Linked DNA regions of Homo sapiens. The protein of the gene in region 7 purifies or fractionates together with the protein of the main gene of each other region. This does not show direct contact. Each region holds a gene or a part of one and is shown on either strand. Other genes may lie near its edges. The genes, in order: PIGG, CCDC127, ABCD3, PTDSS2, PIGN, ATP13A3 and SLC16A8.

Region 1 (4,101 bases), on a different chromosome or scaffold from region 7:
GTGTAAAAACGCGTGCCATTTAAAAAGCAACAATACACAGACACCCAGGTACCCCTTCCCGGGGTGAGGCCCAGGCCCCCGTGTGGCCCCAGTCTCCCCGTCATCCTGGGAGGCTTTGAAGCGGGAGCTGCAGTGAAAGAAACAGAAGGGAGCCCGGCCTTCCCCACCCTCACACAGGCCAGGACTGGCTGGTGCTGCACCACCGCATCGCGGTCGGGACTCCGGGCTCTGCCCTCTGACAGGCCGTCAACCTCTGCACCATCTCCTCACCCAGGAGCGGGTGACAGCAGACCCTGTGAGGCCATGTGGGTCTAGGGACGTATCATGCGTTACTGAGTTAATGGGAGGAGGCAGGAGAGGGGAGGTGAGCTGGTAGGTGCAGGGCTGACCCCGAGAGGGTACCAGGGAACAAGAGGACGGTTTCTATTTGTCACCGCCTGGCCTCTGGGCATCCACATCTGATGGTGGGAGACCCGTTTGTGAATGAGAAGTGAGAGTTCAAGTTAACTGTCTTTTTTTTTTTTTTTTAATGAGTTCTCACCATGTGGCCCAGACTGGTCTCAAATTCCTGGCCTCAAGCGATCCTTCCGCATTGGCATCCTAAAGTGCTGGGATTGCTGGTGTGAGCCACCACACCCCACTGAGGTTGACCATCTTTTATTTGTTACACTTTAAGAACCTTTGTTTGAAAATAAAAATCAACAATTTCATGTAATCTTTGGTTTTTGGGAAAATCAGCTATTTTTTAATACCGTTCTTTGAAAGCCACTTGGTGTAGATTGATCTTGTCGCTGTTTGTTTACGTAATGCTGGCATTTTCCATCTCATTTCAGCTCTGACCACAAAGCCGAGCTCTCTGTCCTGGCTGCCCTCTCCCTCCTCGTAGTTTTTGTGCTGGTGCAGAGGGGGTGCTCCCCTGTGTCCAAGGCTGCCCTGGCGCTGGGGCTGCTGGGCGTCTACTGCTACCGGGCGGCCATCGGGAGTGTCCGGTTCCCGTGGCGGCCGGACAGCAAGGACATTTCCAAGTAAGTGCGTGGCGGACACGGGGTGCATAGAGCCACTTTACTGTTTGAAGAACTGGCGGACACGGGGCGCGTGGAACCACTTCACTGTTTGATGAACTGAGAAGACCAAGCCAGTCTTCAGAGCATTGGAGTTTGGTGTTTGTGAATTGTGATTGTGTCAACAGCTACTGGAGTGTAACTAAGAAAACCTCAACCAGCTGCGTTGTTAGCACTTTTTATGTTTTATGTGTTACTTTTAGGAGACAAATCACTTGGAAGTAAGATTTTTTAAATTTAAAATAAAACCTTCAGGGTGTGTGATGGGACAGACAGATGAGCGTGAATCGGTTTCTAAGTTAGTGGCAGCACGTGATGGCCAGGGTTCTGTTTTCCTGGTCAGGGTGTAATTGGTGATGAGGATGATGAGTGGATGTTTCCCAGCAGCTGGGAAATGAAGCTTGCTGGAAAATCAGACCGTCCTTGTAATTTATAACGAGCCCCCGTAAGGGGCCAGGAGCTCCTGTTGATTGGCGGGAGGGCTCAGTCAGGAGGACCATTTTATTTTCTTTGTGTCAAAGCAACTGTGTTTCTGATTTTAATTGTGTTGTGGTGGTGAACACAGGAGTGGGATGAGCAGAGGCCGTTCTGGAGGGCAGCTTGTAACATGTGGGTGACCCTCTATTTAAATTTAAATAGCTGTTTCCATTTATCTCAAGAATATAAGCAGAGGCAGGAGCCTGGGATGGGACAGAGGCATGTCCACTGAAGTGTCCTTCACAAAGTGTCCTTGCAAAAAGGAACAACCAGGGTAATTATCCAGCAGCAATACAGTGATCCTCCCAGTGAGGTCGGTGCTCTGACAGTGACCGTCCCAGTGAGGTCGGTGCTCTGATAGTGACCCTCTCAGTGAGGTCGGTGCTCTGCAGAGGGGTCTTCTGGCTGTTAGGCAGCCTATTTTCACAGAACAGAGAAGCATGTTGTGGAACAGGTATGACCCCAGCTTACTAATTGTGTACCTGTTTTTTTTTTCATACTTATATGAAAGACTACATACTTAAAATACTGGTGATTATATTTAGGACCTGAAATCATAAGATTGTGGTCTTGCTTTTTACTTATTTTTGTATCTTAGCGATGTCTAGAGTTAATAAGTGTTGCTTTTCTAATCACAGCAAGTCAAGGTGACTGCTGAGGGCTGTGGCCAGCCTGAGGGGTGGCCGTGGGGCTCCGGGGGCACCCCTGGAAGTACTTCCTGGCTGAGTGGGGAGTAAGGGGTGGGAGTTAGGGTGACCTGAGGCCTGGCTGAGGCAGTGAGAGTGTAGCAGGCCGTCATACGGGGCCGGGGCCTGGGGCAGAGAGGATGCTGACGTGCAGGTACCAGCGGTGTTCTGTGGAGATGTCTCAAAGGCTGTTGACTTTGGAATCTGAGACTTAGGGCTCATCCAAATGGATGTTACATTTGCGGGTGTGTGTTTAAGGTGCAGCGTATGAATAAATTCATTTCCTCACAGATCTATACACTGAATTTCAGCATCACTCATCTCAAGACCTTGGCCCTCTTCCCTTTCCTGGCCTGCTTCCTGCAGCATGTAATTTGCTAGTGTCCAGAACTAGCCAGTGTGCCTTTTCTTTCCACACGCACTGCCTGGTTCACCTTCTTCCTGTAAAGTGCCTCCGTCCTTTGTCCCCATCTGTCCCGATCGTAAATAGGTCCTGGCTACAGAGGCATCCTGGCTCTAGATCATTGTAACAGCTGCCGCTCTCCTGTCAGTCCCCCGGGCCCTGCCATCCACTGAGAGTCTGAAATCCTTTGCACTCAGTTCCTGACTGTCCTCCACTCAGAAGCCCAGGGATGGCTGGAGTGGAGGTGGAAGCGGGGTGGGCCTGGTTGAGCAGGATCAGACTCTGCCCGGCCAGGGGAGGAGGAGGAGGACCCACCAAAGGCCCTGGATGATGCCCCTCCTGCTCATCACCCTGCCTGCCCTAGCATCCTCTCGACACAGAAACCAGTCCCTTTTCTTCTATGAAACTTCTCCAGTGATTGTGACCTTTGCTGATTTCTCCCTTCTTTGAATGCAGATGGGCCTATAATTCACTCTTAACTTAGCACACACCTTGGCCTGTGGGGGTTGCCAGGTACCTGACCCCAGCTCCTCAGCCAGGATGTGGGCCCCTCCTGGCAGCCACACTGCCAGGCACATGGTATACAGTGCTCAGGCTGTTTGAACTAAACTGATCAAAGTTTACTTTCTTAATGTAAAAGCTTTCTAAGAAAATCTAATATAGGAAAATTCAGTTTTCACAATATTATGATATTAAAAATTACGATTATTTTAAATGATCAGATTTGTAGGCTGTGTGAAGCATTTCATTTACAAAATTTATTTAAAATATTATGTTTTAGGAACATACGTGTTTTGTAAGATGAAATTTTTTGGTAATTGTATCCTTTACAGATAACTATCATAAGAGTACTTAATTTTACTGAGCTTACTGTGTGCCAAGCACTCCCTGCATTCCCTTGCTTAATTCCTAGGATGACTTTGTGAAGTGTAGAACCATTTTCTCTCCATTTCACAAATAGCAAAGCTGAGGGTCAGAAGTCTTGATTGACACGCCCGAGTAGGAGAGCTAGTGAGCAGAGCAGCAGGGCTCGGACTGAGCAGAGCTCTGCCTTTTCTCAGAGCCCGCGGGTTGGATGACTGCACCACTGCACGCGTGTGTGCCTGTGAATGTGCAGGTGCTTATTTACCTATAACTGCATGTATGTGTACCTGTAAATGTGCAAATCCTTCTTTAAATCTGCTCAGTTGTGCAATGAACATTTATGAACTTACAGCAGTTTCTTAGAGTTGACTCTTATACTAGTGCGTTGGGTTTTTTTTAATTAACTGCAAAGCAGGCGGGCCACGAGGGCACCGCTTGGGTCGTGCCACCAGATGAGCCAAATGAGCAAGATCTCCCCGAAGCCAGCCCCAGCGGAAGAGTCTGCACGAGGACACACCTGTGGGCCTGTGGCGGCGGCTCCTCAGGGCTGCTGTGCGGAGGAGACATGCCCACTGCCATGACAGGACCTGGGGGGTAGGGAGGGTGCCGC
Region 2 (2,994 bases), on a different chromosome or scaffold from region 7:
TGCCGAGTGGGCAGATATGGTGACTTCCACTCCCCACATTCGTCTCTGCCTGCTCTGCAACCACCTAAGTGCTCTCTGCACACTGCAGGCAGTGCCTTACTGGAGCCTTGTCCAGGGACATGAATTTGATATTGCGGCCAGCTTTTGGAAACAGGCAGGGAAGGTGCTGGGCCAACATTTTTAATGACTTACTTCTAACTCTAAAGCACAGAGTGGCTGCCACTGCTTTGTGTCTGAATTTTTATTGTAAGACTCAGCCGCTGGGCGGCATGATGACCAACCTTAAGGCCTGTGGCAGTGGAGAAGGGCCCAGGGTGCTGGGTGTCCTGAGGCCTGGGATTGGGCAGGGCACACAGGAGCCCACTGGTGTCAGTGGGCGGTGCTGAGGGCACAAGCTCCCAACATCTCCAGCTCCACAGACACCCAGGGGCTTCCCAAGAACAGCCCATTCTGATAAGGCCAGCAGAGGCTGGGGACCAACGCCTCCCTCGCCCGTCCTGTGCAGGTCTCGCACTTGCTCCTACTGAACTGATCGGCCCCATCCTGCATGGCCGTTCACCATTCGCTGGGTCTTTGTCCTCGCCCAATCTTGTGACTCCAGTCCTGGGTCGCATGGCGTCTGTGGCCACACATCCGGCGTCTGCAGGGCCCAGGAGCACGCCTGCTGGGTTTTTATGGAGAGCACTTCTCTACCGCAGAAAACACGGCCTCCCACACAAGACAAGCTAGTGGGAATCAGGCAAAACCATTCAGCAGGTGAGAGTGCTGATCCAACCCAGCAAACATCCATGGTGGCTGTAGCTGGGGCTGCTCCTGGCGGAGCCTCAGGGTTCACCTGCCCAGGCCCACCCCGGCTTTCCAGGGCCAGTGGGTGATGTGAGCAGGGTCCCAATGGGGGCCGCCATCTGGAGCCACCGTCTTTGCCTCCCTTGGGTCTTCCACAGCAGCATGGGCTGGTGCAGCTCCTTCAGAACATGGCACTGCTTCCTGTCCACCATCCTGGCAAGGAGTGGGGGCCGTTTTAGGGGCTCCAACTCAAGTCCTTCCTGGCTTAATGACTTGTTCCACAGGTCAGGAAATGATGATACCCTCGCAGGCCAAGGAGATATACGCAGGCCCAGTGGCCCCTGTGTGGTGGACGTGGCCCCTCTGTGTGGTGGACGTGGCCCCTCTGTGTGGACGTGGCCCCTCTGTGTGGTGGACGTGGCCAAGGGCCCTGGAACATCAGGGTTGCTCTCATCCACCAGCGCTCTCCTGCTCTTCCTCTTCTGAGTTGAGCAAGGCTCCATCATCTGCTGCATGCTGGAGTCCCACTATCCATCAGCCCCACACGGCCCCATGGGTGGGGGCACCGTGCTTGTCCCCCCCCATCTTGATGCCTGCCAGTCACCCCCCGCCCCACCTCTGCCAGCCCAGAGCCCCTCAGCCCAGATCCCATTTTCTGGCACCACCAGCCCTGGCCCATGGGGAGCAGCCACCTCGGAGCTATGGCACAGTGCTGTCAAGAGCAGGGCCCCAGCACCCCTACCTCCCGAGGAGGCCCCAGCACCCCACTCCCTGCCTGTCAGCCACCAACCAGCTTCGAGAAGCTCTCCCAGCAGGGATGGGCTCGGTCTCAGTGTCCCTGCTGGAATATTAAACAGAGCCACTTGAGTGCCCCAATGTGGCACTTTCTGCCCATCTGCCTTTCTTCGTTACTCCTCCCTCCTCACCCCACTCTCGGCACCCAGGCCAGGCCCTGCACCTGCTCCTGGAGCAGGACTTGACTCCTCTACCTGGACCAGGCAGGTCATGAAAGATGGGGCACTGCCTGAGGTCTCTGCCAGATTCCCAGGTGAGGGAGATCTGCTTTCCCCATGGGGTTGGGGCGGCCATGCTGGCACAAAGGGCTCCCGTGAATCTGGAGCTCACCCAGCAAACATCCAGGCGGCGGCAGCAGCTCTCAAGGTACACTTGTCCTGTGAGCCGCAGAGCCACATTCAGGCTCATCTGGTCCCGCTACCCGACAGCAAGACCCTCAGCCTGTCAGGGGGTCTGCAGCAGATGAGAGACCTGCGAAGCTGCCACAGAAGCCCTCCGCCTTCCACCGCATGCCTGCTGTCCATGGGTGGCTTACTGAAGCCCTTCGTTTTCTCTTTTCAAGATTTCCCATGAAGCTAGCAAAGGCCACAGGCTCTGCAACCCTGATCTTCATTGTTCCCACTCCTTTAGAACACCGCGGTATGGTGGAGCCCAGCGCTTCCCTAACTCGGCCGCCCGCTGGAGCAGGCCAGGCAGGGGGCAGGCTCAGGAGCTGTGGGAACCGCCCTGTCCCACCGTGTGGCCAGAGAAGCTGGTTTGGGGATTGGCGCGGCTATGCAGAGATATGACACAGAGTGACAAGTACTCCGAGGCCCCTGAGAGTCCCTTATTTGTCTTTCTGGTTCTTCTCTGACATCTAACCTGTGTTCTCCATTCTTGACCTGAAGTTTCACGAGACAGCCTTAAATCCCTCTTTAACTTTCTAGGCTAGCACAAATCCATCTCTGCTGCTTGCAAACAGAATCCTAAATTAATAGAGAAATACAGCAACTGTTTCGTCAAACCCAGCATAGAAAGAGGAGCCTTTTCAGCCTCAACCTATAAAACCCAGCGCAGTTACTCACACAAGTCAAGGCAGACGGAGCAAGCCCAGCACTTTCTACACAGCAGGCTGCCCCCATCACAGCCAGCCAGCGTCTACACAGCAGGCTGCCCCCATCACAGCTAGCCAGCGTCTACACAGCAGGCTGCCCCCATCACAGCCAGCCAGCGTCTACACAGCAGGCTGCCCCCATCACAGCCAGCGTCTACACAGCAGGCTGCCCCCATCACAGCCAGCCAGTGTCTACACAGCAGGCTGCCCCCCATCACAGCCAGCCAGTGTCTACACAGCAGGCTGCCCCCCATCACAGCCAGCCAGTGTCTAGGGCAGCTGCCCCCCCAAACACCCTGGCTCCTCCCAACATCGCACGG
Region 3 (4,101 bases), on a different chromosome or scaffold from region 7:
AATGAGAATCTCATTTGTTGTTGTAGAGTCAAACAAATATGAGTGTCTACTATATATTCCAGCCACAGTTCTAGCCACTGGGGCTATAACTGTGAATAAAATAGACAAAAATTCTTGCCTTTGTGGAACTTAAATGCTAGCAGTATGTATATACTGCAAACATATACAACAGACAAGATAAATATGTAAAATATATAGCATATTTTATAGTGATAAGTGCTAAGGAGAAAAGTAAAGTCTGGAAGGTAGACAGGATGCTATTTTGAGTGGCAGGGGCCAGGCACAGTGGCTCTTGCCTGTAATCCCAGCACTTTGGGAGTCTGAGGTGGGAGAATCGCTTGAGCCTAGGAGTTCGAGACCAGCCTGGGCAACATAACGTGACCTTGTCTCTACAAAAAATATTAGCCAGGTGTGGTGACGTGTGGCTGTAGTCCTAGCTACTTGGGAGGCTGAGGTAGGAGGACTGTTTGAGCCTGGGTGGCAAAGGTTGCAATGATCCAAGATGGTGCCATTACACTCCAGCATGGGTGAGAGAGTGAGACCCCGTCTCAAAATAAATAAATAAATAAAAATAAATCGAATGGCAATAGAAGGTCTCACTAAAAGGATGTCTGAAAAAAGACTGAAAGAGTGGGGAGAGTAAGCAATGTGAGTATCTGAGGAAAGAGCACTTCAGGCAGGGGAAACAGCAAGAGCAAAAGCCTTGAAATAGAATGCCTACCCAAGGATGTGAATGTGCCAGTAACTGGGACATATAATTAATTAAACAACCTGTACTCAGTTCCCCCTAGCAGACCACAGACAGCTACACAGTTCTCAGAACACTGCTCTGGGCCTGATCTGCCTCAGTTGGGTTCAGTACACAGCTACTTTGGCTGGCAAATTCTTCAATGCTTTTTTTTCCATCCAAGGTTGCTTAAGCATCTCTTTTTTATTTTGAGGATCCAAACGGGGCCATATAACATCTACTCATGGGTAACTGTAAGGGTCTCAAGCCGCTCTAGCCCCTCACATGATTCATGCTTGCACTTTGCAAAACACCCAGTGCGCCTGTGAAACTGAGAAAAGTGAAGCCAGCCCCTTCTAGAGCTTGATTTGAATGGGGCAGATTTAAGGAAGGAAAGCTGAATTTTGAAGTTTGCAGGAAAGTTGTAGAGGGGTTAGCAGTAACGTAGTGCAGGGAGTAAGAAGCTGGAGATATAAGGACACCCAATGGGTAAAGAAAGGCCCAGCAGCAGGCAACAGGGCTGAGACTCAGGACAAAAAAAAAAGTCAAGAAATTTCCAGCAGTGGGAATGTCCAAAAAACTTCTAAATAAAAGCATTTTAAGCTGTTCACTATGCTGGGATATAATCCCTACCACTCCTCCCAAATTTTCAATAAAGCCCTACTATAAATATCTGCTTTGTGATTGATTCTTTAGAGAAATCAAGGCAGACGCCAAAGAGACAGGCTCAAGAGACAAGATGTAAGTACCTTCTAAAATAGAGCAGAAAGTGCTCCAAAGGAAGCGAAGTAAGATGTCACTAAAAGAAACACAAGCTCCCTGAAATTCCTGAGAAATATTTAGGAGAGGAAACTGTGTTCCCACCATTTACAGAGGGGGGCTTTTAAAAGCAGGAAACTCACCCCATAAGCAGGTGGACTTTGGTAGACCTAGCTAGATTATAACCAGTCAAGCAATGAATAGATAAAACAATAAAGGTATTTAAATGCATGCTTCAGAAATTTTAAAAGAGGTGATCATCATTTAGATCATCTGGAGTAGTTAAATAACACTTCATGGATAGGGTGACCCTGACCTAACCCTTCAAGGATGACAAGAGTTGGAGAACAGGGATATCATAGAAAGATATTCTAGGTATGAGTAACAGCATGAATAAAGCTCCAAAGCCAAAAATGAGTGTGGCCTGTTCAAAGAACAGTGTAGAAACTGTCCTATTTGGAACAGAGAGTACCCATTGGCAGGCAATGGCATATAAGATTAGCCAGGTAAAGTAAGACCAGATTGAGGGAGGCTCTGAAATCCAAGATGAGAAATCCGAACTCTATTTGACAAGCATTGATAAGAAGCGAAAGAAACTGCTTTGTTCTGTTCTGTTTTTTAAAGATAATAAAATACTATGGCTATACAGACTGGTACCATTCCCTGCCTTCTAAAATTGGCCCACTGATTTCCCACTACCCAGGTCAGGTTATATATGCTCAGGTACACAACTATTACTTCTGCAAAAAGAATGTTTCTATTCATGTTTGTACTAGGCATCTCCAAATGCCTGTCAATTACGCTTAAAAGTTCTTCAACTATCCTATGTCATTTATCCTCTCTATAAACACTGTCTAACCCATGACAGAGCCGAACTAGGGAATTAAAGATGACTCAGTTCATGCCCTCAAGAAACTCAGGATCTGATGTAGGCAAAAGCCAAGAAAACAAACTAGTACAATACAGAATGGTAAGTGCTAGAGTAGGGGATACCTAGAGCAGTAGTCTCCAACCTTTTTGGCACCAGGGACCAGTTTTGCGGAACACGATTTTTCCACAAATTGGGGTTGAGTTGGGGGATGGTTTCAGGATGAAACTGTTTTGCCTCACATCATCAGGCATTAGATTCTCATAAGAAGTGTGCAACCTAGATCCCTCACATGTGCAGTTTACAACAGGTTCACGCTCCTATGAGAATCTAATGCCCCTGCTGATCTGACAGGAGGCGGAGCTCAAGTGGTAATGCTCGCTTGCACAGGCTGTGCAGCTGGGTCCTAACAGGCCACCAACCTGTACCAGTCCACAGCCCGGGGGTTGGGGACCCCTGGCCTACAGTATCATAAAAGCAGAGGACACTTACATCAGTTTGGAAATCAGAAAAAGACAGAAAACACCTAAGACAAAGTGTTGACTGAGTCTTGAAGAAAAAGAAGTATCAGCTGGGCAAGTTGGCTCATGCCTGTAATCCCAGCACTTATGGTTGGATGAGTGGGAAAAGTAGGGAAGGACCACACCATGAATACAGAAAGTTTGTATTTTAGAGTAGATTAATGATTTTAATGAAGGAATATTATGATCATATCTGAGCTTCTTAAAAAGAGCTCTGGTGGCAGTGGAAGATGGATTGAAAGGGCACCACAAAGTTTCTTTCTAACATAAATGCAACAAAAATCTGATAAAGGATGCTGTAACAGTCACTTTATTCCAGTTATCCACTCCTACCCCCTTTCTAGGCTTAACACACATCCTTCATGAAGCCTTCCCCAACCCTTCCCAAACACATTAATCTTGTCTTTCTCAAAACTTCTAAGACATGTCTATCTGTACATTTCATTCTGCTATCAGTGTTTAAGTTTCTTTTCCCTAACAAGAAGGTAAGCTCCCTGAGAAAACAAGTCATATATTTTTGTAATACACACACACACACACACACACACACACATCTTATAGCTCCCAGTACAGTAATATAACATTCTGAAATAGACACTTCCTTTAAATAGCCCTCTTTATCCATGAGTAAAAAGATTCTTCTTTTCCCCATAAATAATAAAATAAAAGGTAAGATTAGGCAAACTAAGGTGAAAAAGTTAGCTTAGCAGTGCTGGAATCAGGAGTGAATACAAGCTGATCAGGAATGAATACAAAGGAACTTTCTGGTGGGATAGAAATGTTCTAATTTGTCATAGGGATGTGTTACATAGTGTATCCATTTGTTTAAAAAATGTACAACTAATATTTGTACATTTCAATGTATATAAATTTTACCTAAAAAACCTATAAAAATAAGGGGTGACAGGCAGGTTGAAATAGATGAAACAAGAATATAGAATGTTGTTGGTACTCCTTGGGTAAAGTGCATTGGGCAATCCTTGTATTATTCTATTTATTTTTTATATGTGTGAAATTTTCCACAATAAAAGGTCAGAAACACACACACATATATATGAGATTTAACTGAGTGAAAAAAATTACATTAACAAAAATTAAAAGTAACCCAGAACATTTAATTACTCATTCTCCCAATGTTTGGAATAATGTTACACTGTAACTTTTAAAGTGATTTTACTAGCTCTATTACCTATCCAATTCTAAGGGAATATATATTCTAAAACCAA
Region 4 (4,101 bases), on a different chromosome or scaffold from region 7:
GGAGAATGAGGGGGTCCAGGGGCCGCGCTGGGCACAGGGGTTCCGAGAATGCCCCTCAGCCTGCACCGACTGCCCCGGGGGCTGTGCTGGCACCTACGTGATCCCACCAGCACTCGCTGAAGTTGGGCAGCTGGTGCTCCAGGCTGTACTCCAGGAACTCGAACATCACGCTGATGATCATGCACATCCACCAGTCTCGGATCATCAGGGTCTGTGGGCGCCAGGGTCAGCCAGAGTATGGGACGCCGGCCACACCCGGCCCTGCCCACGGGTGCGTGCAGCCCCCACCCCGGCTGGCAGCCAGAGTATGGGACGCCGGCCACGCCCGGCCCTGCCCACGGGTGCGTGCAGCCCCCACCCGGCTGGCAGCCAGAGTATGGGACGCAGGCCACGCCCGGCCCTGCCCACGGGTGCGTGCAGCCCCCACCCCGGCTGGCAGCATTCTTGGAGTCGACAGCACTGGCAGGGCCCCCAGTGAGGTCTCAGGGTGAGCGTGGGGTGGGTGGCTGCCCCTCCAGCAGCCTCGATGTACGACTGTCAGCAAACAAGGCAGCATCCCCGTGCCCGGGGCCTGACACCAAACTCTGCCAGGGTGGGCTGCAGGGTCAAGCAGGCACTGCTCTTAGCCCCATAGGTAGCACAGGGTCCCTCAGAAGTGGGATGGGGCAGTGCCCAAGCCCAGGCAGGGGCGGGACTTCCTGCCCTGCCGCCTCTTTCCACCGCCCCGACCCTGAGGACGGAGCGGGGACCCGACCAGGATCAGGGCTTCTGGGAGGTCCGGGAGCCCCACGGCTTCTCGAACCTCTGGGTGGCTGCAGTGCGACACCCTCCCACCACACTCAGAGCACCCTGAGCTCAACTCCATGGACAGAAACGGTCCAGAGCCCACGGCAGGCCTCAGAACCGGGGCGGGGAGGCCGGGAAGAGGAGGTGCCGTACCTTCAGGTACCAGCCAAGAAAGTGCGCGGGAACAAAGCCATCCAACTTGTCCTGTGGGCGACAGGGTATGACCCTTGACCCTGGGGCACAGCCACCCCCACTCCCCACACCGGCAGATCAGCCCACACCTGAGCAGCACCTGCCAGACCCCGGGAAGAAGGCCAGGGACTCACAGGTGCTGCCGTGGCCTGTGGAGACCACGTCCACGACAGCCTAGAGAGCAGGGGCCCCCTGCCCACCATGAGCACCATCCAGACGGACAGGGCCTCAGCACATCTCTGCACCAGGAGACCCCAAGTGTGGGCTGAGGGGTGCGAGGCAGGAGCGTGGATGGCGCCTGGTCCGGCACGGGGCCACACCTGGGGAGGGGCTCGCCTCAGGGCCCCCGGCGTCTTACCCAGATGTTGTGAAAGGGGTCAGTCTCATTGTCTGGGTCGTAGATGAGGCAGTTTCCCCCGTAGTCTCTCTCTGGCAGTGGGACTCCCAGCTTGGGGTCAACATACTTTAGAAACTGCCGGCCGTCCTGGACAGTCTGCAAGGCCAGTGCCCCCGTCAGCGGGGCTACAGTTAGTGGTGGCAACTTGAAACGGGAGATCATGGTTGTTTATTTATTTTATTTTTTTGAGATGGAGTCTCGCTCTGTCGCCCAGGCTGGAATGCAGTGGCGTGAACTGGGCTCACTGCAAGCTCCGCCTCCTGGGTTCACGCCATTCTCCTGCCTCAGCCTCCCGAGTAGCTGGGACTACAGGCGCCCGCCACCACGCCCGGCTAGTATTTTTTTTTTGTATTTTTAGTAGAGACGGGGTTTCACCGTGCTAGCCAGGATGGTCTTGATCTCCTGACCTCGTGATCCGCCCACTTCGGCCTCCCAAAGAGCTGGGATTACAGCCGTGAGCCACCACGCCCGGCCAGGAGATCATGGTTGTAAACTGCATCTCAGTCACCCTGGAGGAGGGCAGCGCCCTGTCTCAGCAGCCCTCCCCACCCCAGGGAAATCCTGGTGGGGCAGCGCGTGGGGAAGGAACCCCCAGGCACGACACCCCATCTCCACACCTGCGCTCCCCGGGGCCAGGTGGGCACAGGTGCGCTTCAGGACATGGGGGTCTAGGACCGCTGGACAGACGGGAGCGGGATGGGGCCCTGAGTTACTGCGGCGCGCCGCCCCCACCCCGACCCCTCCCCGCATGCGCGCTCAGGCCAACACCCTCACAGGAGTCGCCCTTGTGGAACCTGCTCTTTCCTCACCCAGACGCTGGCATCAGCCAGATACACCTCTTGACCTTAGGGCAAGGCAGGCTTTTGGGCCTGACGTCAAGGGAGGTTTACATCATTTACAGACACCTGTGCTCACAGCACACACGCACCAGGGCACCAGCTGTGTTTACACTCGCCTGCGCACACGGTGAACACACACGCCCGTGCACTGTTTACACTCGCCTGCGCACACGGTGAGCACGCGCGCCCGTGCACTGCTTACGCTCGCCTGCGCGCACGGTGAGCACACGCGCGCCCGTGCACTGTTTACGCTCGCCTGCGCGCACGGTGAGCACACGCGCGCCCGTGCACTGTTTACGCTCGCCTGCGCGCACGGTGAGCACACGCGCGCCCGTGCACTGTTTACGCTCGCCTGCGCGCACGGTGAGCACACGCGCGCCCGTGCACTGTTTACGCTCGCCTGCGCGCACGGTGAGCACACGCGCGCCCGTGCACTGTTTACGCTCGCCTGCGCAGTGAGCACACGCGCCCGTGCAGTTTACACTCGCCTGCGCAGTGAGCACACACGCGCCCGTGCGCTGTTTAAACTCGCCTGCGCACAGTGAGCACACACGCGCCCGTGCACTGTTTACACTCGCCTGCGCAGTGAGCACACGCGCCCGTGCAGTTTACACGCCTGCGCACACGGTGAGCACACGCGCCCGTGCACTGTTTACACTCGCCTGCGCACACGGTGAGCACACGCGCCTGTGCAGTTTACACTCGCCTGCACAGTGAGCACACACACCCGTGCACTGTTTACACTCGCCTGCGCACACGGTGAGCACACACGCGTCCGTGCACTGTTTACGGTCGCCTGCACACACACAGCACACATGCCCATGCACTGTTTACAGACGCCTGCGCAGTGAGCACACACGCGCTCGTGCACTTACACTCGCCTGCGCACACAGTGAGCACACACGCGCCCGTGCACTGTTTAAACTCGCCTGCGCAGTGAGCACACACGCGCCCGTGCAGTTTACACTCGCCTGCGCACAGTGAGCACACACGCGCCTGTGCAGTTTACACTCGCCTGCGCAGTGAGCACACACGCCCGTGCACTTACACTCGCCTGCGCACACAGTGAGCACACGCGCCCGTGCACTGTTTACACTCGCCTGTGCACAGTAAGCACACGTGCCCGTGCAGTTTACACTCGCCTGCGCACACAGTGAGCACACACGCGCCCGTGCACTGTTTACGCTCGCCTGCGCAGTGAGCACACGTGCCCGTGCAGTTTACGCTCGCCTGCGCACACAGTGAGCACACACGCGCCCGTGCAGTTTACACTCGCCTGCGCAGTGAGCACACACACGCCCGTGCACTGTTTACAGACGCCTGCGCACAGTGAGCACACGCACCCGTGCACTGTTTACACTCGCCTGCGCACACGGTGAGCACACGCGCCCGTGCAGTTTACACTCGCCTGCGCACAGCACACACACCCGTGCACTTACACTCGCCTGCGCACACGGTGAGCACACGCATCCGTGCACTGTTTACGCTCGCCTGCACACACACAGCACACACGCCCGTGCAGTTTACAGACGCCTGTGCACACAGTGAGCACACATGCCCATGCACTGTTTACAGATGCCTGCGCAGTGAGCACACACGCCCATGCACTATTTACAGATGCCTGCGCAGTGAGCACACACGCGCCCGTGCACTGTTTACACTCTCCTGCGCACACAGCACACACGCACCCCTGCACTGGCTGTGTTTACAGACGCCTGCACACACAGTGAGTGCACACATGCCCGTCCTCTGTGAGCTATGGCACCCAGGACCACGCAGCCCACCCAACACCCAGGCCTCAGTTCCTAATATTCAGTAAGGACCCAAGGCTCTTGGAGAAGGGGCTGATTCCAGGACCAGGGTGGGGAGTGGACAGGAGGAGCCTGG
Region 5 (3,994 bases), on a different chromosome or scaffold from region 7:
CGTTTTTGATGACCTTGGTAGTTTTGAAAAGTACTCACTGGGTATTTTGCCAAATGTTCCTATATTGATATTTGTCTGTTTTTCTCATGATTAGACTGGGTTTATGAGCACTGGGGAGGAAGTCCGTGTAGCTAAAGTGCCATTCTCATCATGTATCCAGGGTACATACTGTCAGCTTATCACTGTTGATGTTCACATAGATCACCTGGCTATGCTATGAGCAGTTTTTAATAAAATAAAACCAATCACAATAGCATGAGAGATAGGACATGATAAGCAAACATGTATCAGGCAAATCAGGATTTAATTGTATGGTTTCTAACTTTAAGAATATTACTTCTCATCAGCAAGGAGAGGAGCTTTTAAAATGTTGACAGACGATTTCTAGAATTTCAAGTAATACAGGGATATTCGAGGTAACAGTTTATGTCTGTAAGATTGACAATTACCTGTGTTGGTCCCTTCGTTAATCACATTAGTCAAATTCACTGAACATTATCTGCTTAAAGTAAAAACAACTTTAAAAAATTCATGGAATCACTGATGTTTGATGCAATTGGTATTTGATACCAGTCAAGCTAATTAAATTCTTCTGTAAAAAGAATTTATCTTTTCATGAGTTTACCCAAGAGTAATAATAATTTTAGATTTTAGCCCTTTGAGGCCAATTAAAGGAAATTTTGATAACTGATGTTTTCTTTTCATAGTTTTTTTAAATAACAAAGCATTATAAAAATTTAACTACTAATCACTTTCTACACTGTCAAATCATAAGAAAACAAGTTGAAATTTGGTGCAAATTTATTTTTCAGGTAAAAGATATAAAACATAAGGTATGAAGGCTTAGTCTATACTCTAGCAGGGCTAGACAATGAGCCATGATGAACCGAATGCAATCTGGTACCACTGGCCTTTCCCACATGAAAGACTAAATGATGACAGGTGTAATATATACAGAGGCAGGAAAAATTGCAGGAAATTGTAAAGTTTTCTCACATTAAGGGTTAAAGTAAAAATGGTATTCCAGTTCTCAGGGAAAAAAATTCAATCAACATACAACACCCTATTTTCAAAACTATGACAAATTAAGGTTTTAGTGCAAAATTATATGGAGACATTTCTTTTTGAGGCAGAGTCTCACTTTGTCGCCCAGAGTGGCACCATCTCGGCTCATTGCAAATTCCACCTCCCAGGTTCAAGCAATTCTCATGCCTCAGGCTCCTGAGTAGCAAGGATTACAGGAGCCTACCACCCCGCCGGGTGTGTGTGTGTGTGTGTGTGTGTGTGTGTGTGTGTGTGTGTGTGTGTGTGTGTGTGTGTGTGTGTTTAGTAGAGATGGGGTTTTGCCATCTTGGCCAGACTGGTCTCGAACTCCTGACCTCAAGTGATCCACCCACCTCGGCCTCCCAAAGTGCTGGAATTACAGGGGTGAGCCACCAAGCCCGGCTTTGGAAACATTTCTTATGTTTACCAATCAGGAAGAAAACTCTAAGACAGGGTCTGCTGTCAAGCTAGTGGAAACTTTTGGCATAATGCTATCTTCCTCCCTTCACAACGTACATCACAAGTTAAATTCCCTTAGAACTAATGTAAATATACCTATTTAAGGTGGTTTGACTAGATGTTTCTCAAATATATTTAATTAAGAAACTCTTTTCAGCTGGGTGAGGCAGCTCACGCCTGTAATCCCAGCACTTTGGGAGGCCGAGGCGGGTGAACTGCTTGAGGTCAGGAGTTCAAGATGAGCCTGACAAACATGGTGAAACCTTGTCAGTACTAAAAATATGAAAATTAGCCAGACGTGGTGGTGGGCACCTGTAATCCCAGCTACTCAGGAGGCTGAGGCAGAAGAATCGCTTGAACCAGGGAGGCGGAGCTTGCAGTGAGCTGACATTGCGCCACTGCATTCCAGCCTTGGCGAGAGAGCCAGAGTCTGTCTTGAAAAAAAAAGAAAGAAAGAAAAAAGAAACTATTTTTATTATGACATTTATTTGTATTACAAGGAACCAATGTTCTAAGGGACAATCTCTGATAAATGCTGCTGTGTGGCAAATAAATGCTGCAGTTCTGAAGGTAGAAAGTTGAGCAGTAACTGTAACCCGTTTTAAGTGTACCCAAGGAAATGAATAAGAGACACATCTCAAAGGTTCTTTTTGTTTCTTTATAGAATGAATATTAAGTACTTTTCATGAGTTTACCCAAGAGTAATAATAATTCTAGATTTTAGCCCTGTGAGGCCAATTAAAGATAATTTTGATTATTAATGTTTCCTTCTCATTTTTTTTTTAAATAACAAAGCATCATAAAGAAATCCCAGTCAAAAAAAAATGCTGCTGCCTGGAAAACATAGTGAAACCCTGTCTCCATCAAAAAATATTTTAAAATTAGCTAGGTGTGGGGGCATGTGCCTGTAGTCTCAGCTACTCAGGAGGCTGAGGTGGCAGGATCACTTGAGCCCAGGAGGCAGAGGTTGCAGTGAGCTGAGATGGTGCCACTGCATTCTAGCCTGAACAAGAGTGAGACCCTGTCTCAAAACAAAAACGAAAAAAAAAAAAACAAAAAACCATGCTTATACAGAAATGGGAAAATGCTACAAAGATATTGCCATAGTACTGAAAGCACACAGCATAACAATCATTAATGCTTTGAAGCATTTTAAAAACAGTAAGGGGAATGTCAACATAAAAAAGAACAACTACGAAAAGGTGAGAAATGATCAAGTTATCTCTGGTCTCTTAAAAGAAGGAGTTCTCAGAACTGGTCTGAAGGGGGTCTTCTCCAAATGACAGAGTTGATTAGCTCCATTCTCTTCAGCCCCCTGACATGATGGCATCTAGTGTGAATATGGGAGCTCACCAGGTTCTCCCAAGGACAGGGTGGCCCTGCAACAGCTACGCCTGTCCTAGAGACCATACCCACGCAATCTCCTTCATTCCCTCTAGGCCAGCTTCATCAGAAATCATGTTTTTAATGGCACAGTTATATGTCAAAAAGGAGGAGAAAAGGAGCCCCTAGTCCACCAAAACAAGTGTAAAAAGGTCGCAGGAGGGGAGGAGGATTGACACTGATGTTCTTAATATCTGAGTTGGCTGAAATTTGTAATAAGTTTTTCATGAGAAACCATATTATAATGGATGAAGAGCTTTTCTAATTCAGCTCTATCATTAATAAATAATTATAAAGACATTACTATGAAAATATACAATCATTTATAACATTATTTTCCTAAAAAATAAAAAAGCATTTTGTATTCTAAATACTGTACACTAAGTATAATAATTAACATATTGGAAAATGACAGACAAGCTGCAGCGGTTTCCTAAAGCCTTAGGATTCCCTCTAAGGTTTATTCATGGGCCCTCTAAGATGATAGCATGGCCTTTTTTTGGTTCAATATTTTCACAACTTGTTCTGCCTATTTTAATTCTTATAACAATTCCTAATTTAAACATTGTTAATCAGCAAATGTCCTAAGTCTTGATTCAGAAATCTATGGCATAGGTAGAATGAAAAAATAAATACCTTAAATAGAAATACTTTTTCCCTAACTCGTTTCTTTTTTCTGTTTTGCAACATAAAAATATACATTTCAAAACATTTAAAGATATCTGGGAAACTGCAACAGAAAAGGCTTGTTCCCATGTGAGTCTGAAGGGGCCAGTTACGGTGCAGCAAGGCGAGCCTGTGGCTGCAGGCACACAACACAAACTCCACAAACTCTATGATACTGTCAGAAGGAAGTTCAACCTATTCTACAGACTCACACTGACCTGAAAGGACAAAATTAAGAAAAAGATATGCCTCAAAGAGCAAAATAAAGAAAGATAAAAAAACTGAGCACCCTTTACAATGTTGTAATAAAATATTTATTAATTTCTCTTTATAAAAATTTGGGAAAAGATAAAAGGCAAAACTACACATAGAAAAAGGTCAGTGATAAGTGTTTATACAGTCAGTTTTTTCTGATGTGTGAAAAAAACTGATAAAAAAATCC
Region 6 (4,638 bases), on a different chromosome or scaffold from region 7:
ATAAGAAATGTGATTCTAAGGAGGGAGAGAGAAGGGAGAAAAGGATGAGTACAACATATCTAAGAGTTAAACTGAGCTATATTTGAATGGATGATAAATGGAATAGGAGTTGGCAGCTTATCACCTATCAAAGAAAACAGTCAAAACAGTTCACAGTTGTGTGCTAAAAGAAGGTGATCTAGTGTGTGACACCTATTAAGATGACATATCTGATTTATCACCAGAATCTGAGGTTCAGAGATGTTATGTTGCCTAGTCACATACAACTAACCTTATAAACCCAGAGACAGAAACCTCTGTGTTAAGCACATTAACACAGAGCTAGGTTTCTGTCTGTCTTCAAAGTCGCTTATACTGTAAGCTCCTTAACTTCTTTAATTTTTTTTTTAACAAAGAAGAATATTGTTACCTGAAAGTGTTGAGGATTAGTTGAGACCATATGTAAAGAAAGGAGCACTTTTCCTGGCACATAATGGTTTCTTTCCTTCTTCCATTCCATATATTGAATCAAACTATGCTTGTATAACGTGGTGGTTTTGTAACTACTGTGAATATGAGGTTTTAGAATATGAATATGCTTTATTCCTAAGATAAATAGTAATCTTAGGACATAGGCACTATATCATATTACTATGGATATACAACCTACTCAATGGTCAAACTCAGTGAGAATAAGCAGTGATGGGGACGCCCTATGGAACTTTATCTTTATTCTGTCTTTTTTCTCAGTCTCAGTGATGTTGGAAATAAGAACTTTATACTTGTGAATGACAACAAAGTGGTTTATAATCTCGAAAATCTTGAAGACAGAAATAGGATTTCAAAATGAGCTCGATAATGTGGTTTATCCAAAGCGGATTCTGTGTGTTGTATATTTGGTGACCTAAACTAACTATGTAAGTATCAACCGCCAAGCTCGGTGGCTAGCGCCTGTAATACCAGCACTTTGGGAGGCCTAGGCAGGAAGATCACCTGAAGTCAGTAGTTCACGACCAGCCTGGCCAACGTGGTGAAACCCTGTCTCTACTAAAAATACAAAAAATTAGCTGGGCGTGGTGGCACACACCTGAAATCCCAGCTACTTAGGAGGCTGCGACAGGAGAATCGCTGAAACCCAGGAGGCAGAAGTTACAGTGAGCCGAGTTCACACCACTGCACTCCAGCCTGGGCAACAGAGCAAGATGCCATCTCAAAAAAAAAAAAAAAAATTTAAAGCAACCAAATAGTGTCACTTTTCCTACCCAATCCCCTGACCAAAGCCAGGCATTGTTGTTCTAACAAGGCTCAAAATCTCAATTATTTCACTCTCTGCCTGATCTAATGGTAGGATAATGCAAATCAAAGATACCAGCAAAAGTTATGTTCTACAACAATCATTAATAATAGGTTTACTACTTCGAACAACTTCCAAGCACTGATTTGCCTTAAAGGGGTTGCAAACCAGGATGAGATGCCCACACACATTGATTTTTGGCAACTGTAGTCTATTAAGCAAAGCAACAAACCTCTAGAGAAAATAATGTCACATATATTCCAGTGAAACAAAATTAATACATGTACCTTGGTAAAGAGGCTGAGCTCTAACCAAAGATAGAGCACTGTTCATTACGTACTCACCCTTCAAAGGAATCAAATCGAAACACTTTCATTTTAACAACGATACTTTTTAAAGGCTTTATTTTGCAATAATCTTTCAAGTCCCTGCATTTCTTAGATTCCTTAAATTCTAACTTCCTGCCTCATAGATCTAAAGTAGCCATGACATACCCAGGTATGTTCTACTCATTTAGTTAGAATCGTATAGAGGAACACAAGTCTGTTTCTAGGTGTACGACTCCACACCCATTCATTTTGCACTAATATAACCACTAAATATAGCTCTAAGACACTGATGATTAAAAGCGGCTAATTATGTGAGTGATTCATACCTCCTATGTCCAAACACCAAGATTCAGGGATGTCTGTCAGATCTATGGGAAGAGGAAACAATAAACACCTGTCACAAAGCTTCTTCCACACCGGGAAGCCCCCAGCTGAGTTCCTGCCAATCCCAACCCGATTCCCTCCCCCTTCATCCCTACCCCTCACCTCCCCAAAAAAGCCAGAGGTCATACTTCCACCAGAACCTGACTCTGTGAAGGGAATGGAGAGACAGAAAGGCCATAGCGAGAGTGGCCACGAGAGCACTGCTAGGGCAAAGGGCCCTGGGTTTTTCTAGTCCTCACTGCCACAGAGTCCGAGTGGGAGGCCTCAGGCAAGTCAGAAGTCACTTTTCCTCCACGGGACTCACTCCTTTTATCTGTGAAATGCGGAGATGGCAAGCAGCTCCATACTCCACGGCTGAGGACGAGCTAGGGTCCCGCACAGACTCATCGAGGGCCCTGCCAGCACCCCTACGCCTCTGCCCACAGGACCTCCACCTCCCACAGGACTTTCCGAAAGCTCTGACTACCAACCACCAAGCGCCCGGCCCCCACGCTCGCCCCCGGCAGGCGGCGCGTCCCCCCCAGGCCTTCGCACCCACCGCGTGGGCTCCTGCCCTGGCCTCACCTGCCCCCGACACTCCCCGTCCCCGCGATGCCCAACTCCGGCCCGAGAAGGCTGGCCGCGACCTCGCCCGGTACCCGCCGCCCCGACACCACCATTCGCCTCCTCGACCTCCCCCGGCGCCGCTGCCCACCCGCCCCTCGCCCCGCTCACCGGGGCCGCTCACTGGCCGCCGCCGCGCCGCCTCCTCCGCGGCCTCCCTCGCGGCCGGACCAGCCCCAGGGACCGCGGGGGACCCGGCCGCCGCTGTCGCCGCCGCCGCCTCGCCTCAGCCCAGCCCCATCGCCCTCGGCCGGCGCCGCGCGCTGCGGCTCAGGGTGAGGGAAGGAGGCGCCGCGGCGGGGCCGGGCCGGCCCTGGGACGTCCGCGCTCTCCTCCTCCTCCGCGCCCGCGGCGGCGGCGTGCAGCCGGCAGGGCGAGAACAAGGGAGGGCGGCGGGAGGTGGGCAGGGGAGGGGGGCGGTCTGCACTCCGAAACGGCCCCCCCGCCGCCAGCGACGTAGAGAACCCCCCTCCCCTCCGCGGCGGCGCCCGATCACGCTGCGGGGAGAGCCGGCAGGCAGGCGGGGGAGCGCGCGCGGGCTCAGGACTCCCGCGCCGGATGTGAGGTCACGTGGTGGCTTCATCCCCGCGCGGAGGGCGGAGGGGCGCGGGCGACGTCAGGAGGCGGGGAAGGGGCGGGGAGGGGCGGGGCGATTTATAGGCCCCGCCCACCCATCGCCTTTGCCACCCTCGAACGGGCAAAAGAAAGAAAGAGGCAGGTAAGGGGAGGCGAGGCCGTCCAAAAACGCTGGGTGTCAGCCCGGGGTGGCTAATGGAGGGCGGCTTTTCTGGTGGGATGAAATGGAACGGCAAATCCCACTTCATCCCCTTTGGGCTATGACAACATCATAGTCCAATCTCCCATTTTATGAACAGGGAAACTGAGGCTCAGTGACTAGACAGACGTTGCCCAGAGTCATGGTCATGGAGGAAGCTTGTGCTAGAATGGTGGAGAGGAAACCAGAGCCCAGCTCCTAATGCAAGGCTCTTTCATTCCTTTAGCCACCCTCGCCCCCGCCAAAACAAACAGACAAAAAACTGTCATTCTCATATGACCACGGACTCTGCGCCCCGGCCGCAGGCGGAGGACAGGGAGGAGCGCACACGAGAAAGCTCCCACGCGCCCGCGCCTCGCCTCCGACGGGAAGGCGCCTCTTCCGACCGTCCTGGATGCAAATTAAATACTTCCCTCCGCAGAAGACTTATCTCGGGGTAGGGCCGCAGCCGGATTTCCAAATCGCGGGTTTGATTTTCGCTGCGTCCTCTCCGCGACGCGCGCAGGGAGCGCGCCCGGCCACCTGCAGCCTCTGGCTGCGGCCATCTTTCCGCCTGGGGCCACCTGGCCTGCGCCCTTTGTGCCCGGCCCGCTCCGTGACTGTTCTTCTTGCCGCTACTTACAGAACTCAGCCGCCTTAGCGTCTTAGAGAAGAGGACGGCATGCATGCGGACCCCGTCCACCACACCTGGAGAGCAGGGAGCCCTTAGTCCCTGGACACTTACCAGGGCCGCCACCCCTGGTCCACGCACGTGATGACATCTCACCAGGGGCAGCACACCGCCCGAGTCCGCGACACTGATAACACCTCCTGCGGGCAGGAGGGCGCCACAGCCACCCCTGGTCCCCTAGATTGTGTGAGGCTAGCATTTCTGCCCGCCTCTTGGCGTGGACAGCACGCTGGACCGAGATGGAACCACAGCTTTCTCTTCCCAATCCCTGGCCTCACCGTTTTGTTTCATACCTCACCGTTTGTTTCAAACCTCGTGGTGTTGAAATGATTAAATGAGATTAAGGGGTGTGTGGTAGTGTTGGGCAAACCACAAGAAAACGGTCTGGGTGGGGTCTGGCCCTAAAATCTTCCTCCCCCACCTCCCAGGCTTCCTTGCCTTGCTGCTTCCTCTCAGCCTTTAAACAGGTTGGCCTCTCCAAGTCCTAAAAACAAAATTATCAAGCCAACCTCCTCCTGAAGTGCTCCCTCCAACTAGCTTCCAAGTGTTTCATGCGGACCTCAAACAATGGTCTTCCCTGGCTGCCTCTGCTTCCTCATTTCTC
Region 7 (4,697 bases):
CTTCCCTGGGTCTAAGGGGCACTAGGCTCGCCACCCCCTCTTCCTTCGGGGCGCACCGGCAGAGGGCGGTCCGATGAGCACAGCCGCGGCCTCCACGAGCAACACCAGGCCCAGCGCACTGGGGAAGCGGGGCGCGCCCACAGCCGCCATGAGCACCTCGAACTGCAGCGCGCCCACCATGCCGTAGGAGAGGCCGAAGGCGACGCAGAAGGCGACGAGGGCGCCGTAGGAGCGCGCGCGTGCGCTGCTCAGGTCTGTGAGCCCATTGGCCAGCAGGGCCAGGCTGAACAGATACGGGACGTGCGGCCGCAGACGCGCCAGGCCCGCCAGGGCGCCGCACGCCGGGCGCGCCACGATGTCCACGAAGCCCACGATGGACAGCAGGAAGGCGGCGTCGGTGTCGGGCACGCCCGCGTCCTTGGCGTAGTTCACCAGCAGGATGGCGGGGACGAAGAGCCCGAGCGCCATCAGGAACTTGGTGACGGCGTACACGGCGAAGGCGCGGTCGGTGCACACTGCCAAGTCCAGCAGGCGCCGGCGGGGCCGGACCCTGGGGGATGCCTCGCGCAGCTGCAGCCCCGCACCGTCAGCCTCCGCCTCGCCCGGAGCGTCCCCGGCGCGGTCGCCGGCGCTGTCCCTGCGCGGTCGCGGGCCCGGCCCGGGCGGCGGCCTCATGACAGCCCCGCAGGCGCAGCAGTGCAGCAGGAGCCCGCCGAGCAGCAGGAAGCCGCCGCGCCAGCCGAAGCGCTCCAGCAGCTGCTGGCCGAGCGGCGACAGCGCGGACAGGAACACGGGGCTGCCCGCCGCCGCCAGCCCGTTGGCCAGAGGCCGCCGCCGCTCGAAGTACAGCCCCAGCATGATGAGCGACGGCTGGAAGTTGAGGGCCAGGCCCAGGCCTGCGGGCGAGGCGGTGCTGTGCCGGGGTCCCCGGAGAGCCCCTCCCTGGCCCCCACAGGAGGGAGGGGCCAGGCCCGGGAACCCAGCAGATCCGGGAACCCAGCCGAGGGACTTCGAAGACTGTCCCTCATAGGGAAACCGAGGACAGATCTTGCAGCAAGAACCCCCGACCCCCAACCCAGCGGAGAGGAGACCAGGGGGCCCTCACCTGTGAGCACCCCAGCGGTCAGGTAGAGCTCCAGGAGGCGCGTGGCAAAGGAAGCTAGGATCATGCCCGCGGAAGCCAGCAGCCCACCCGCCAGCATCACCGGGCGACAGCCAAAGCGGGTCACGAGGATGCTGGACACGGGGCCTGTGGGCAGGGCAGGGTCACCACCCGGGTCCCGGGATGGCTTGAGTCCTCTAAGGAATAAGGTCACCTCCGGCTCAGGGACACAGAGAGGAGGGCAGTGTCTGGCCAAGGTCACACAGCTTGGAGGGGACAGGCCAAAGAGACAGCATCCTGCGAGGGCAAGGCCCAGAGCACCCCATCCTGCGAACCCAAACCCCAAGCGGAGCGGGGGCTTCCGCACCCCTTTAACCTTCACAGCCTCCAAGTCCCGCCCTGGCACAGACTGGGATTCCTCCGCAGCCCCGCCTCCCAGGATGGGAACTCCAGCAAGCCCCCACCTACAGGTCAGGGCTGCGGGGAGGGGGAGTGCTTCTGTGGCTCTCAGCTTTCCTGCCTCTACAATGGGCGGGTGTGGTCTTAGAAGGGGCCCTCTGAGCTCGCAGGGCAGCCCCCTGGGCCGGCCCCGCCTCTGGCCGCTGTCTCCCTCCCGCCCTCTCTTCCCCTCTTTCTGGTGCCAGGGTTCCCACAGGCAGGAAGGGACTTCGGGGGCCACCCCGAGGGTCAGGGGGATGCTCAGGGGCTCGGGTGTCTCCTGGTTCCGGATCCCAGGGGTCCCGGGGAGGCGGAGGGCCGGGCGGGGACACTGACCCGTGCCGTAGAGCATGGCTAGCATGATGGAGGACACCCAGGCCGTGTCGCTGTAGCCGGCGTCGAAGTCGCGCATGAGCGCGCGGAAGAAGACGCTCACGGCTTTGGGGAAGCCGTAGGCGAAGCCGGTGACCACAAAGCAGGCGCCCAGCACCACCCAGCCCCAGCCGCCGTCTGGGGGGCCCTCGCCCCGCCGGGGGCCGCCAGCGCCCATCGCTGCCTCTGTTGGGAGGGGGCGGGGACAAGAGGGAGGGGCTGGGCCAGCAGCCTAGAGAAGGAGGGGGATGGAGACGAAGCATGGGGAAACTGAGGCACAGGGCTACCCACGTGAGGGTGGCTCAGGTCTGGGAACCAAAAGGGGAAACGGAGGTAGGACTCTCACCCCAAGTCTCCTTCTCCTGCAAAGGGCGCTGAAGGACGAGGGGAGGACGACGGGTCCCACCTGACTCTGCACCTCTGCAGGCTCCCTCTGAAGGACAACTGCTGGCCCCTCAGGGCCTCAGGTGGAAGGCGTCGGGAAGTGGAGCAGGTATGTGCCTGGAGGTGGGCGTCCAGCACCAAAGTCGCCCCGTACGCGTGAGGGTCTCGGGACAACAGAACAAACAGCAGAGGGGCAGATGCCGGCTGCAAAGGGCCGCTGTGCGTGATTTTCCTCTTTAGCCTTCCGCCATGTTCCTAATGTTTCTCAGTGATCACAAATGACTATTGTCATTAGAACATTAAGGGGACAAAAGCCACTTTCAACAGATATCAGCCAGGGGAGCTGAGTTCCCATGCATCTCAGCTCAGCCATGGATTCCCTCCCTGACTTGGGCCGGTCGCCTCCCCTCTCCCAACCTCCCTTTCCTCCGATGTAAGATGGGTGATTGATCACCCCGAGGCCAGCTGGGAATCTTGCGGGAGAGGAGTCAGGTCTCTGGCTTCTGCCAGACAGGTAGGAACCTTAGCAGCACTGAGAGAGTGGCCTTCTGCCCTCCAAACCTCAAACCCTCTATATGAAAAGAATGGCTCCAAAGCCTGTCTCATTCCTGGGGCTCCACCCGGGGCCCTCACAGCAGTTACAAGCGCCCCCATAACAGATGAGGAGGGTGTACTCAGAGACAGGTGCACCAGGAGCCGGGGGCTGGGGATAGCCTCCTGCCCTCCTGCCTGGAGTGTCCCTCCTGGCACTGGGCAGTGCCACCACCCCCAGGGTATCCGGGACTCTGCCCCTCCTCCACTAGGACCAGGTTGTGGCTTTTCCTGCCTGTTGTCCTCTTGTCACAGGGGCAGCCACTTGAAGGTGGAGACAGGAGGGTGATCCCAGGCAGCCCTCACATCACACTCACCTGAGCCTGCCTCGTGGGTTTGGGGGTCCAGCCTCACATCTCCTGAGGCCTGCAGGGAGGGGCCGCCGCCGCAGCTCCCGGTGAAGCTTACCCGGATGGGGGCTGCCAGACACCCCAGCTTCCCACCAGCCTGGGCTGAGCCTCTGGCCGACTCCCGCCTGACGCTCCCTGCCCCAGGCCTGGAGCTTAGAGTGTGTGCCCCCACCACACCTCACCCCTGCTAAGAGGCTTTTGTCCAGGAGGGGAGAAGAGACTGGGAGCCCCAGGCCAGGCTGGGCCTCGGCGGTGGGCTCCCTGTCCCAAGCCAGTCCAGGAGGGAGGAAGAGAATCCCTGTGCCTCCTGGAGCCTGGGGTGGTAGACACAGAGACCTTGCCCAGGGGGTCCTAGTCTGGTGCTGGGGGCACAGCCCTGCCCTGAAGAGACCCCAACGGTTCTAATCACCTCAGTGCCTCATCTGCCCCCGCCCCAACCCCCCGCCCCAGGCCACATTCCAGGAGGGGCTGGCAGCTTTCTCTAGAATGAAGCTAATCCACGCCTGTGCCTGGGAATGTGGGGGGGGGAGGGGCCAAAACAAAGGGTGCTGTGTCCAGGCCGCCTGAGGGCAGCTTGCTGGTGGTCCCAGCCCTTGGCCACTGCCACCTCTCCCCTGACCCGAGCAGCCGCTACTTCCTAGGAAACCCACAGGTCGAAATGAGAGCAGGTGGAGATGGGGGCTGCAGCGCGAGGGCTTTGGGGCAGCCCTAAAGAGTTCTCCAAACAAACAAACAAGGGGCTGGGAGTGAGATGGCTTCCCGGGGAACAGCCAGGACCTCAGTACCCCCTAGACCCCATTCTCCAATGGGGGAGTCTCTATCCCTCACCCCCTGCCCTGTCCCCCAAATAAGACACCACCAGTCCTGCTGCCGCATCACTTTGCGTCCACTTCCTTTATTTCTCATCATTTACAAAAGATGTACAGAGAGGGCATGTGTTGGGCACGGAGCAGGTACAAGGGGCTCCTCCCCACGGGGGCAGAAAAGGGGGAAAGAGGTTAGGGGGCAAGAGGTGGGCCCCCCAGGGAGAGTCCTGGAGCCCCTGGAGGGGGAGAAATTGTCCTGTCCCCCCATTCCGCCTGCTTTACTTTGAAGGTCTCGGACCCCAAGCCAGTGCTTTGGAGCTGCTCAGGCTGCCGGGGTGGTCTGGGGAGGGCAGCCACCCCCCGTCTCAGGGACCCGCTTCTTGGATCTGCTGCTGTTGCTGCTGTCGCTGCCATTGCCAGCTCTGAACAGCCCCTGGGCAGGTGCACTGTGGGGTACGACCTCGGACCCCGCCTCAGCGGATGAGGGGTGCTGAGCGGTCATTGGTGATGGTGGGACGAAGCTTGACAGTGGCAAAAGGATTTGTGCCCCTGTAGGAGGAGAGAGAGAATGGGGTGAGAAGGGCAGATGATCCCCACCTGGCCATGGCTCAGGAAGGCAGCTGGGCAACTGAGCTGGGTCCTGCCTCCTGCCCC

Evidence for each region.
Region 1: the proteins of SLC16A8 (region 7) and PIGG purify together in Homo sapiens (affinity purification with mass spectrometry; one large-scale study listed by BioGRID and IntAct). This does not show direct contact.
Region 2: the proteins of SLC16A8 (region 7) and CCDC127 purify together in Homo sapiens (affinity purification with mass spectrometry; one large-scale study listed by BioGRID and IntAct). This does not show direct contact.
Region 3: the proteins of SLC16A8 (region 7) and ABCD3 purify together in Homo sapiens (affinity purification with mass spectrometry; one large-scale study listed by BioGRID and IntAct). This does not show direct contact.
Region 4: the proteins of SLC16A8 (region 7) and PTDSS2 purify together in Homo sapiens (affinity purification with mass spectrometry; one large-scale study listed by BioGRID and IntAct). This does not show direct contact.
Region 5: the proteins of SLC16A8 (region 7) and PIGN purify together in Homo sapiens (affinity purification with mass spectrometry; one large-scale study listed by BioGRID and IntAct). This does not show direct contact.
Region 6: the proteins of SLC16A8 (region 7) and ATP13A3 purify together in Homo sapiens (affinity purification with mass spectrometry; one large-scale study listed by BioGRID and IntAct). This does not show direct contact.

Annotation. Positions count from the first base shown.
Region 1 is NC_000004.12:526,206-530,306, forward strand, and holds part of PIGG (GPI ethanolamine phosphate transferase 2, catalytic subunit), read left to right. Parts: intron 1-833; coding exon 834-1,025; coding exon of another isoform or gene 1,026-1,029; exon of another isoform or gene 1,030-1,336; intron 1,337-4,101.
Region 2 is NC_000005.10:198,160-201,153, forward strand, and holds part of CCDC127 (coiled-coil domain-containing protein 127), read right to left. Parts: 3' UTR 1-2,994.
Region 3 is NC_000001.11:94,420,890-94,424,990, reverse strand, and holds part of ABCD3 (ATP-binding cassette sub-family D member 3), read right to left. Parts: intron 1-4,101. UniProt on the Homo sapiens protein: Broad substrate specificity ATP-dependent transporter of the ATP-binding cassette (ABC) family that catalyzes the transport of long-chain fatty acids (LCFA)-CoA, dicarboxylic acids-CoA, long-branched-chain fatty acids-CoA and bile acids from the cytosol to the peroxisome lumen for beta-oxydation.
Region 4 is NC_000011.10:484,309-488,409, reverse strand, and holds part of PTDSS2 (phosphatidylserine synthase 2), read right to left. Parts: intron 1,520-4,101; coding exon of another isoform or gene 1,472-1,519; coding exon 1,337-1,471; intron 991-1,336; coding exon 940-990; intron 212-939; coding exon 98-211; intron 1-97. UniProt on the Homo sapiens protein: Catalyzes a base-exchange reaction in which the polar head group of phosphatidylethanolamine (PE) or phosphatidylcholine (PC) is replaced by L-serine. Catalyzes the conversion of phosphatatidylethanolamine and does not act on phosphatidylcholine.
Region 5 is NC_000018.10:62,040,381-62,044,374, forward strand, and holds the end of PIGN (GPI ethanolamine phosphate transferase 1), read right to left. Parts: 3' UTR 784-3,994; downstream 1-783.
Region 6 is NC_000003.12:194,483,866-194,488,503, forward strand, and holds the start of ATP13A3 (polyamine-transporting ATPase 13A3), read right to left. Parts: upstream 3,138-4,638; 5' UTR 2,701-3,137; intron 2,683-2,700; exon of another isoform or gene 2,551-2,682; intron 2,372-2,550; exon of another isoform or gene 2,089-2,371; intron 1,971-2,088; 5' UTR 1,929-1,970; intron 1-1,928. UniProt on the Homo sapiens protein: ATP-driven pump involved in endocytosis-dependent polyamine transport. Uses ATP as an energy source to transfer polyamine precursor putrescine from the endosomal compartment to the cytosol.
Region 7 is NC_000022.11:38,080,784-38,085,480, forward strand, and holds the start of SLC16A8 (monocarboxylate transporter 3), read right to left. Parts: upstream 3,402-4,697; 5' UTR 3,205-3,401; intron 2,579-3,204; 5' UTR 2,259-2,578; intron 2,255-2,258; exon of another isoform or gene 2,099-2,254; 5' UTR 2,091-2,098; coding exon 1,877-2,090; intron 1,250-1,876; coding exon 1,106-1,249; intron 897-1,105; coding exon 57-896; intron 1-56. Other genes in the region: BAIAP2L2 (BAR/IMD domain-containing adapter protein 2-like 2), read right to left, coding at 4,517-4,592.